Regions from separate parts of the Homo sapiens genome. Here region 1 is linked to region 2. Evidence: fine-mapped expression QTL. Tissue or cell type: tibial artery. Region 2 holds a variant in brackets; the other region holds the start of a gene. All regions are shown on one strand. Distances are between the middles of the regions.

What was found. PIP is the estimated chance that this variant, and not a neighbour inherited with it, causes the effect.
Region 1: DUSP22 starts here. The variant in region 2 is fine-mapped to the expression of DUSP22 in tibial artery (GTEx, PIP 0.91).

Annotation. Positions count from the first base shown.
Region 1 is chr6:290,075-295,177 of GRCh38, forward strand. It overlaps DUSP22 (dual specificity phosphatase 22), which reads left to right and starts at 2,413. Exons shown (of 7, transcript NM_001286555.3): 1 at 2,413-2,486. The coding sequence starts at 2,466. RefSeq lists enhancers at 1,376-1,665, 1,592-2,092, 2,093-2,593, 2,886-3,145 and silencers at 1,776-2,795, 3,540-3,696, 3,576-3,635, 3,646-3,705.
Region 2 is chr6:353,096-358,298 of GRCh38, forward strand. No RefSeq gene overlaps it. Among named protein-coding and RNA genes, the nearest start is that of IRF4, 36 kb to the right of the region's middle. RefSeq lists enhancers at 883-932, 3,010-3,239. The variant T/C (reference allele first, on the strand shown) is at 3,092.

The sequences.
Region 1 (5,103 bases), 63 kb before region 2:
TTAATAGTCTCCTCTTTTCCTATTTAACCCAAAAGAAAAATTTGAGATTTTGATAGGAACTCTGGGCATGTGGACCTTTTAGGCCATACTGAATGCTGATTTTGACGGTAAGGAGGAAGCCATGGCAGGTTCTGAGTTTAGGGGGAAAAGCAGATGGTCCAAGCTGGAGAAATATATCTACAAGAAGAGTATGAATAAGAGAGAAATATTGCAAGTGGATGACAGAAGAAAAAAATCAGTATGAATTTGTCATTCATGGTCAAGTACCAGTTTATGAACTGGTTGTGTTCTTAAACGTTCATCTGACTGTTGGATGAATGGCCCAAGGAGGGCAGAAGGCTGCAGAAGTAATTCATTGGTTGCTGGATAGAAGCTTCAAAAATTCACAGTTTAATGCTCTTGTTTTAAAGAGAAAAAAAAAGCTAGCTCAGAAAAGTTGATCATCTTGCTCAAGACCTCCTTAAGAATTAGAAATAGAGGCTGATTACTGGGATTCCCCAGGCAGTCCACTAACGATTCTGTGTTGTCTCTAAGCAGGAAGGTGGTAAAAACAGTTACTTAATGGCAGTGTGTGGCAGAGGGGAAAGGGCAGGCTGTCCAGGTGACTGAGAAGCAGGCGGGAGAAGAGGAAGTGAAGGCAGTGAAGAAGGAACACTCTCCCAAAACAAGAGGCAGAAAGGGCACTCCGGGTCTGGGTCCCATTCTACCTAGAGAAAACATGCAAGCGCATATTGATTGAGGGCTTTCTACACGGGGGGTTTTGATACCATTTGTTGCCCAGAAGATATGGGGTACAAGTACAGAAATGGCGACAGATGGAGTCTACAAGCTCTTTCCAAACGTTCACATTCCTCAGAACCTCACCCGTTTTCTCGGCCACAAGAAATTATTAATTTATTTGACAAATATTTTAAAAATCACTATTTTGTGCTAGATTTTGTCCCAGGCCACATGGCTGTATTACTGAATAAGACAACTTTTTTTTTTTTTTTAATCTGAAAGTTGCTGGCTAGTGAGACAGATAAAAAGAAAGCAAATACATGTATTTCCGATCAATAATACGGAGTAATATGATAGTGACTGGAGGACCAACCTGGAATTGGGTGGTTAGGAAAAGCCTCTTAGGAGAGATGGCATTTGGGCTGATACCTCAGCGATAACAGGCAGGTATGCAGAGAGCTGGGGATCCAGGTGTCTGGATAGAGAGCACAGCCCAGCAAGCCTGACAGGCTCAAGGAACAGACAGGAGACCAGCATGTGTGTAACTCGCTTAGCAAGAAGATAAAATGAAGTCAGCAGGGGTGAGCCAGGGCACGTCAGATTGACGCATGTACTCATTCAGCAAATATTTATTAAGCACCTACTATGTTCAGGACATTGTTGAGGATACATAAATTAAGAAGAAAAACCACTGGCTCAAGGATTCTGTCGCTGGAGAGAAACTTCAGAGTTTAATAACGTTGATAGAACACCCAAAACAATTCTGCTACAGTTTAGAAATTGATCCATTCCAGACAGAACCACAATGCAGACATTAAGGGACACACATCATCTAAGGCCGTGAGGTCTGAGGTCAGAGATCCAGCCATCTGCTCCCCCAGGGTAGGGAGGTCGGGCCTCCCCGGGGTGAGTCACGTAGCCCACCTCTCCCCACCAGGCGAGGCTTCTCGGTCTTGGTGCATGGGGCAGGGCCGCAGGAAATCCCCCAGCCTAAATCTGCCGCACTCAGAAAACCCAGGCAGGGGAGCCCCCAGAGACCAGGCCTCTGATTAGCACCTGATTCACGGAGGCAGCCAAGGCTGGGTAGCGACTGCTGGTAACTGGCCCCCGGAGTCGCCCCAGGGGAAAAGGCCAAAGGGGGATCTGGAGACCCCCGGCCGGGGAGCGGGCTCCGAGACGAGCGCAGCCGCCCGGTCAGGGCAGCGCCTGCGCGTCCGCCAGGCCCCGCCGCGCAGCCTCGGGTGTCCCGGCGGGGCGGCTCGGGCCGCGCACGCGCTCTGGCCTCCGGGGCCGGCCGCCTGGGAGCCCGAGCCTAGTGCCTCCCACGCCCGGCGGCCGCGAGCCGGGGTCCGCGAGGGCGGAGTGGGGCGCGGCAGCCAGGAACCCGACTACGAATCCCAGGGTGCGGGCGGGCGGAGCGAGGAGGGACGCTGGGCCTGCCCGGTGCGCACGGGGGCGGGGACCGGCAAGGCGGGACCATTTCCCGGCATAGGCTCCGGTGCCCCTGCCCGGCTCCCGCCGGGAAGTTCTAGGCCGCCGCACAGAAAGCCCTGCCCTCCACGCCGGGTCTCTGGAGCGCCCTGGGTTGCCCGGCCGGTCCCTGCCGCTGACTTGTTGACACTGCGAGCACTCAGTCCCTCCCGCGCGCCTCCTCCCCGCCCGCCCCGCCGCTCCTCCTCCCTGTAACATGCCATAGTGCGCCTGCGACCACACGGCCGGGGCGCTAGCGTTCGCCTTCAGCCACCATGGGGAATGGGATGAACAAGGTAACGTCTTCCCTCGTTCGCGCTGGGTTTGCCTCCGCTCCGACGCCCTGCCGTCTCGCCGGCGTCGGCTGCCCGACGACTCGAGCCCGGGGTGCCCTTTCCCGCGGTGGGGACGGGCGCGGAGGGAGGGGCGGCGCGCCTGGGCGGCGACCGCGGAGTCGGGGTTCGGAGGTGTTCCCGCCCCCACCCCACCCGGCTTCCGGGTAGGCAGCCCCCAGCCGCCTGCCTTGCCAGCCGGTGCGTTTTCGTGGCTGAAACAAGCCGCGCCCTTTGAAAGCGTTGACACTTGTTCTGCCGAGAGGTCAGCTGAGCTCCGAATGGATGTGGCTTCTTTTTTGCCCTCCTCTTCGCTCCCAAACTACGCTCTTGAAGCCACCACCGCCCCCCCCACATCATTAGTAAACGGGTGTCCTCTGTAATTTCCTCTTTCTCCTCAGATTCTGTGTGTGTGCCTGTGAGCACAGAGAAGTTTTTCTTGTGGACAGAGAAGTTAACAGAGTCCTAAGTCCTGAGCTGTTTCTAGATAGTGGGGAGGAGAGAAAAGATTCAGAGTTGATTAGGTTATGTGACTTCTGCAACAAGGGCAACCTGTTGCTGGCTGCTTGCGCTGATGAGGCCTTCTGGAAAATCTGTGTTGCTCCATTTGTCCCGTCCGTTTCTGGGCCCCACCCTGTGTTCTTTTGTTGCCCGCACCTCACTTCCCGGGCGGTGGGCTAGCCTTTCCCGTCCAGGGAAGTTGCCAGATTCCAGCTCTGGCAGCTGAGAGTTGCCGGGGTGTATTCATGTGAACCACAGGGTTAAGGATTTTGTTACTTGGTACTTGGCTGGTTTCGAGGAAGGATTGACAAGACTTTACAAAGCCCGCAACAAAGACAAGTACCTTTTTACGGGTCTTTGAATGGTCCTGGATTAGATGAGTCGTCTTTCTGCTTCACTTTTTCATTGCGCTCCACCCACCCACATCTCTACATGCCGTCAGCTTCCACACTGGGTGGGGATGGCAATGTGGCTGTGTTTTTTTTCATGTCCCTCAGCACTGGGTCAGCAGTGGTTTGGGTGTTGGGGCTGGAGTGTTGCAAATGCGGATTCACGGTAGGGCAGGGAAAACCTAGCTAACTTTTCACGTGCGCATGTCGTGTTTATTGTGTCCTGGTTACCCAGTTTGTGAAAGAACTATTGTGTGTTTGGGACCTGCATATCAATACTGGGGTATTTTGGTAAAGAGAATTGTATTCACTTTTTTTTTTTTTTTTTTTTTGGCGAGTGATCAAGTTTGGAAACAGACTGTCTCTCTCTTGGATAAATACTTGTATTATATTCCGATGAGCACTGGAATCCATCAGCACCACGAGCCTTCTGCTTTTTAAATTAAAACAGAACAATAAAGATGGTCATCATAAGTCTGTGGGCTCCGTTTGCCTTCCCATTGGTGGTGGTATCTCAGCTTTCCTTTGGCTGTTTCTAGTTTTCCCACTTGAGCTGTTCACTCTCCACCGTTTTCAGCATTTAATTTATAGTATTTGTGTAATACAATTCAAAAAATATATTTAGGAATACAGATGGTTGCCTAAGGGATCAACGTTATTTTCATGCTTTTCAACAAAAGCAGTAATATTCATATACTTTTTACCTTTCAAAATGGGTAATAAATTTCTTGACTTTTATTATCTTGTGAATAGAGACTCACAGTGTATCAATGAAGAAATACATGTATAGAGAGATTTAGAGACTTCCCTGCTTCAACACTTATTGATTATGTACATACTATGAGCCAGGTGTTGTGCTAGTGGGTGGGGAGGGGGCAAAGGGAGTACAGTGGTAAATGACCCAAAGATTCTTCACAGAACCTTCAGTACAGGTCAGCATTGTCCAGCACTAATATGATGCGAGCTATATATGTAACTTAAAATGTTCCGGTAGCCACATTAAAAAATAAACCGGTGAAATTAATTTTAATAATATATTTTATTTAACAATATATTAAAACTATTGTTTCAACATGTAACCAATATATAAAGTTATTCATGGAAGATTCCATGTTTTTTACTATGTCTTTGTGAAAGGAAAAATCTCGGGACCCCCAGATCACTTAACCTTCAAAGTCTAGTGTGTATTTTATGCCTAAATCACATCTCATTTTGGACTAGCCACATTTGGAGTACTCGATAGTCACTGTGGCTAATGGCTGCTGTGTTGCACAACACAGGGTGTGTATGTGTGTGGGGGTGAGAGAGAGAACAAACACAAGGTAGGGAGGAGTAGAGGCTCCAGAGGATAAAATAGGCAATTTCAGAAAAGTGGGGAAAGCAGAAGATGGGATGAAAGTGACCTAGAAGGGGCATTCAGCCCAGGCAAGGAATCCTGCTGCAGTAAACATGTTTAACGTGAGATCAGGAGGAACTACCCCAAATCACAAGGTTCATTAGTGGCAAAGTAGATCGCAGGAGGCCAGTAACTTAAGAACCTTAACTAGAACTTTTCCATATATTACTGTGTGACTTGGAACGAGGCTTCATCTGTAAAAAAAGAAGAATGGTTGATTTGCAGAATCAGCGGAAGGTGCTACCCCTAGAAATCCTTTTCTAAGAACATTTATAAATATGTGCAATGTCTTTGG
Region 2 (5,203 bases):
TGACTTGACAAATTTATAATGATCGTAACAGGTGCTATGGGATCCAGCCAGGCCTCAGACACACTCCTGATTCTCAGAAAGACTGTGGCCTGGGGGGGTTGGCAGTTAGGAAAGTTGTCACTCACAGCAGGGGTCCCCAGCCCCTGGGTCACAGAGCAGTACTGGTCCATGGCCTGTTAGGAGCTGAGCCACACAGCAGGAGGTGACCACTTCCTGTCAGATCAGCAGTGGCATCAAATGCTCATAGGAGCACAGACCCCATCGTGAACCGTATGCGAGGGATCTAGGTTGCACGCTCCTTATGATAATCTAATTAGTGCCCAGTGATCTGAGATGGAACAGTTTCGTCTCGAAACCATCCCTGCCCCACTGTGATCCATGGAAAAATTGTCTTCCACGAAACTGGTTCCTGGTACCAAAAAGGTTGGGGACTGCTGACTTACAGGACAGCATGGTAAGGACTATTACAGCTGTCCCTGGTGCCGTGTATGGGGGAAAGGGGTGAAAAGACACATTCCAGTTTGAGGAGGTGGGAACATTTAAGGGAAGTATCTTAGAAAACGCAGTACCTAATTTAAGACCTGCAGTATAAGCCGTGGAATGAGCTGGGCATGGCGGGAAGGAAGGAGAGTTCAGGTGGAGGCTCAGCACGTGGGCTAGCCAGCAGGCATGAAAGACCTTGGGGTCAGGAACGAGAGCCACTGCAGAACTAGAGCAGCCTCCCCAGGGCTGGGCAGTGCTGGGATTGTGCCAGCAAGGCTGCGAGCACAGCCGAAGCCTGACCAGCCAGGTTTACTTCCTAGGCCAGCCCTTGGAGCTAAGCAGGCTGAGAGGGGCAGCACCTTACCATGTTCTCAGAGGTCTGACTCCTGAGCTTGTAACCTTGTAAGTGGTGCGGCTGCAATTCTGCAGATGGTGGGGGAGTGGAGGACTTGCTGAAGGGTGCTGAGCCAGCGGGACGCATGATGGATGTGCAGGCAGAAGGCTCACGCAGGTGCCCAAGTGGGGTGGGACTGCATGTTGGGGCCAGTCAGGAGGCTGCTGCTAGGACTATGCCGGTGAGAAAAAACAGCAGCCTGCCACGGGTCATGGTGGTGGAGATGAAGAGGGGCCCAGCAGGCAAATGGACTTGATGGAGGGTGGGGAAGGACATGCAACTATTCTTGGTGACTGATTGCATATTGGGGAGTGAGGGCCCAGTGCCCCGCCTGCTCTCTGGGACCTTGGTAACAGTGCGGTGGCTCTTTTGTCCCAGCATCTTCCTGTACTGTGTGGTGTGTATGCCTCTGCAAAAAGGTTTAAGGAAGATGCTACAGAAGGGGCTGGGTGGGTCCCAGATCAGGGGCCTCCAAGCGGGGCTGTGCTTGGGTGTAACCTGGCTCTGCGGTTAGGTACCATGTTTGTCCATCATCCAGGACACATTCCCAGGGACCAGACTCATGAAAATGAAGATTGAATTCAAATTTCCGATTTCCTATTTTACTGTGAAGGATAAAATATTGGCTCTCCAAAGACTAATGTCATCTCCTGGTCAGGCTAGCTCTGTTTCTGTCATTAGCAAGATTTGGGGAGATTACCTTAGTCCTGGGGCATTGTGCAGTGAGCGTGAGTGGTCAGGACCTGAAGCTGGGTAGCCAAGGCTCTGTCCATACCTGCCGTGTCTCCGGGCTGGGGTGCTGCTGGTGCAGCAGATGAGGCACATGTGAGAGCAGGGCTGCTGCTCCTGAGAGGCTGCCTTTCCTGGGCCCCAGGCAGACCCCTGCTGCACACCTGTTCTCTCTGCCCATGGTGATTATTATTTTGTGTGTCTGACAGAGTCTCACTCTGTTGCCCAGGCCAGAGTGCAGTGGTGCAGTCTCGGTTCACTGCGACCTCTGTCTCCCGGGTTCAAGTGACTCTCCTGCCTCAGCTTCCCAAGTAACTAGGACTACAGGCGTGTGCTACCACGCCTGGCTAATTTTTATATTTTTAATAGAGACGGGGTTTCGCCATGTTGGCGAGGCTGGTCTCGAACGCCTAACCGCAAATGATCCACCCACCTCAGCCTCCCAGAATGCTGGGATTACAGGTGTGAGCGACTGTGCCTGGCCTGCACAAGGTGATTCTTTTCTCAGATCACCTTCCTTAAACTTGAGTGTTTCCAGATCTCCTCAGCACCATTTGTGCTTTTCCCTGGATTCCTGCTAGTGGCTGTTTTTGTTTATTGGGTGCCAGCTCTTTCTAGTTTCAGTCTCAGCAGAGAATTCTGTTTCCAACTTCTGGAGCTGCCTTATGTTATTTGGACACAAGACAGCCGTAAATTCTGCTGACCAGGGTGTGCATGTGTGGGCAATGTGTATTTTATCATTTTAGTTTTATTTCAGAGAACACCTTAGCTTCCAGGAGAGTTACATGTGCAACATCTCGGAGAGTGCTGAGCTCAGGTTCCTGGCCATTCAGGTAGCTCAAGCAGCAGGCACCTGAAAGCACTCCGAGGAATGGCCAAGCCCTCATCGCACAGCCAGAGCTGGTCACAGTGCTGCTCTGCACACCAGCCTCTAGTCATAAAAATAAGGAACACACTAAGAATCACACCCCTGTGATCCCACATCAGATGTCTCCTCCCATCCTGAGTTATTAATAATTTTATTAAGAATATGCTTTCAACACGCTTGTATTTATATATGTACTTAACAAGAAATCACCAAGACTGCAGCGGGCAGTTCCTCTTCCCTTTCCTTTTCATTGCCCAGAGAAAGGGAGAAAAAAAAACAACACTGCATTTGACTTGTCACTTGGAGGCTTAATTCCCTTCTTACATGCAGCAGTGGGGTCTCCTTCCGCCCTCAGGCACAGCTTGCTTTGAGACTTGCAGTATCACAATTAGTGTTCTCTTGCAGCTTGGACTTAACCAGCTTAAATTACCATCTGACTGAAGGGTGCGAGTGCTGGGTCTGCATGTGTTTCTTTCCATCAGGGGAAAGATTTGCCAGTGCATGTTTGAACATCTGCAAGTTTGGGTTTATTTTGGCTCCAAATCTGTATGCAAACTGTTGGTCATAAAGAGTTAGAAGTTCACAGCGAACCTTCCTGAAGCTTCTAGTTCAGTTTT[T/C]AGAGCTTGATGTTGGAAGAGATCTATTTCAGCAGGTGCCTGAAAGTATAGGGAGTTCAATATTCTAATTGCGTGTAGTGGCAGCTATTGGTTTAGAGGTAGGTTTAGCAGAAAAGACATTTTGGATGGGGTCATTTCTGTGCATGTCCTGTGTACACAGGCCTGATTTTAAAAGCTATATAGGCCGGGTGGGGTGGCTCACGCCTGTCATCCCAGCAATTTGGGAGGCCGAGGTAGGTGGATCACTTGAGGTCAGGAGTTCAAGACCAGCCTGGCCATCATGGTGAAACCCTGTCTCTACTAAAAATACAAAAAATTAGCTGGGCGTGGTGGCAGGTGCCTGTAATCCCAGCTACTTGGGAAGCTGAGGCAGGAGAATCGCTTAAACCCAGGAAGTGGAGGTTGCAGTGAGCAGAGATCACACCATTGCACTCCAGCCTCCGCAATAAGAGTGAAACTCCGTCTGGAAAACAAACAAACAAAAACCTAGATGATGGGGGTGAGGTTAGGGGGATGCTTTTTGGGTTAATAATTCCTTCAAGGAATAATGTTTGGAGGACAGGGCTTGGAAAAGTGCTAATCCCAGCAAGAGCCGCCTTCCCAGCTTGGCCCGAGGAGCCACATCACCACGCAGCAGCCCCCACGATGCACAGTAGTGGTAGGAAGCTTGGCCCCTCTCTCCCCGCAGAGGCACGTCGTCCATTGTTCTGCCCTGGGCCTCGGGCACCCACCCCCAGAAGCGGCCCCATCAGCACAGACAGGAAGTGCACCTTGCTGGTGAGCAGGTCTGCTGCTTGTCAGTCAGCGCTGGGTTTCCCCAGACACTGATGGGCAGCCTTTTTGGAAAATAAGAATCAGAAGACTCCAACACGTGCACCCAAGAAATGTCACCTTCTGCTTTACAAAGGGTGTACCCTTCATGGCAACAGGCCCAGCCGCACAGAGCTTCCTCAGAGCCAGTGTCCTGGGAGAGGCCTGTCATGTGCCAGGGTCAGCTGCTGGGATTCTCCTGGGTTTTGTGTTAAGCTGGGCCAATGTGGTGACACGGGGAACGCCAGGAAGGTGTGAGAGGAGAGGAACCGACTCTTGGCTGTTACAGCGGCTGTTTGCAGGTTCAGGTGTGGCCGAGAGGGGTGCAGAAGGGTGGGCTGCCATCATTTCATGCCTGGAAAGTCACTTCCACAGCAAGAGGCCCGCTCCATGCCTTGCCAGGCCCTCCCGTCACCGTGACCCTCCGGCTCCCAGGACCACCAGGAGCACAGGTTGGGGCAGAGGTGGTATCAGCAGATGAGAGTCTTGAAGTGGCTGGGGCCAGGCGGGCCTGGCTGAGGTTCAGTTGGGTCCTGATTCTCTGGAATACCTTGGGGAAGTCCCCGAGGAGGCAACACACTCATGTGGGGAACTTTTCCCCTCCACTGCCATGAAAAAAACTCCCTAGAAGGGATGAGGGGTGCAGACAGCACCCTGGCTGGTGGCATTTGATGTGTCTGGGAAGGCCCCTTCTATCCCCAAAGACCTCCCATTAGATGGCAGGGTGGTCAACCTGAGCACGGCCAACAGCCATTGGGCGCTGATGCATGGCGAGAACTGGCAGAGGACCTTTTCTTTTGAAATCACGTCCTCACCACCATCTTGTGAGATAGGTTTTACTATGATCCTCGCTTTCAGATGAAGACACTGAACTCTAGTCTGACAGCCAGGAGGCAGCCAGGTCAGGACTGGAATGCAAGCAGCCTGACCCCAGTCACAGGCAAGGTGCGCCTACAGTCACCCCAGTGCCTTTGAGGGGGAATCACGAGAGGAGGGTGAAACCCACGCAGTGCCAGCAATCACGTGCCACTGTGTTGAAGTTCTTCCCTGAGGATGGGCGTGCATTCGATTAGAGGCCTTGTAGAGTGTGGGAAGGTAGGGAGTGGCAGAGATTCACTTCTTGCTTCTTGCAACCAAAGGGTTGCAGCAGGACAACCACGCACGCCTCTGCCCGGACCTTTCTGCCTTAGCCTGCAGTAACTGGCTGGGCACTGGGTGTCCTGGGCCCTGGGTTGCCCCCCGCAGGAATATAGAGTTGCCTGTGTGTGCAGTGGTGGGTGCTTTCTGTTCTCGATGCTCCAT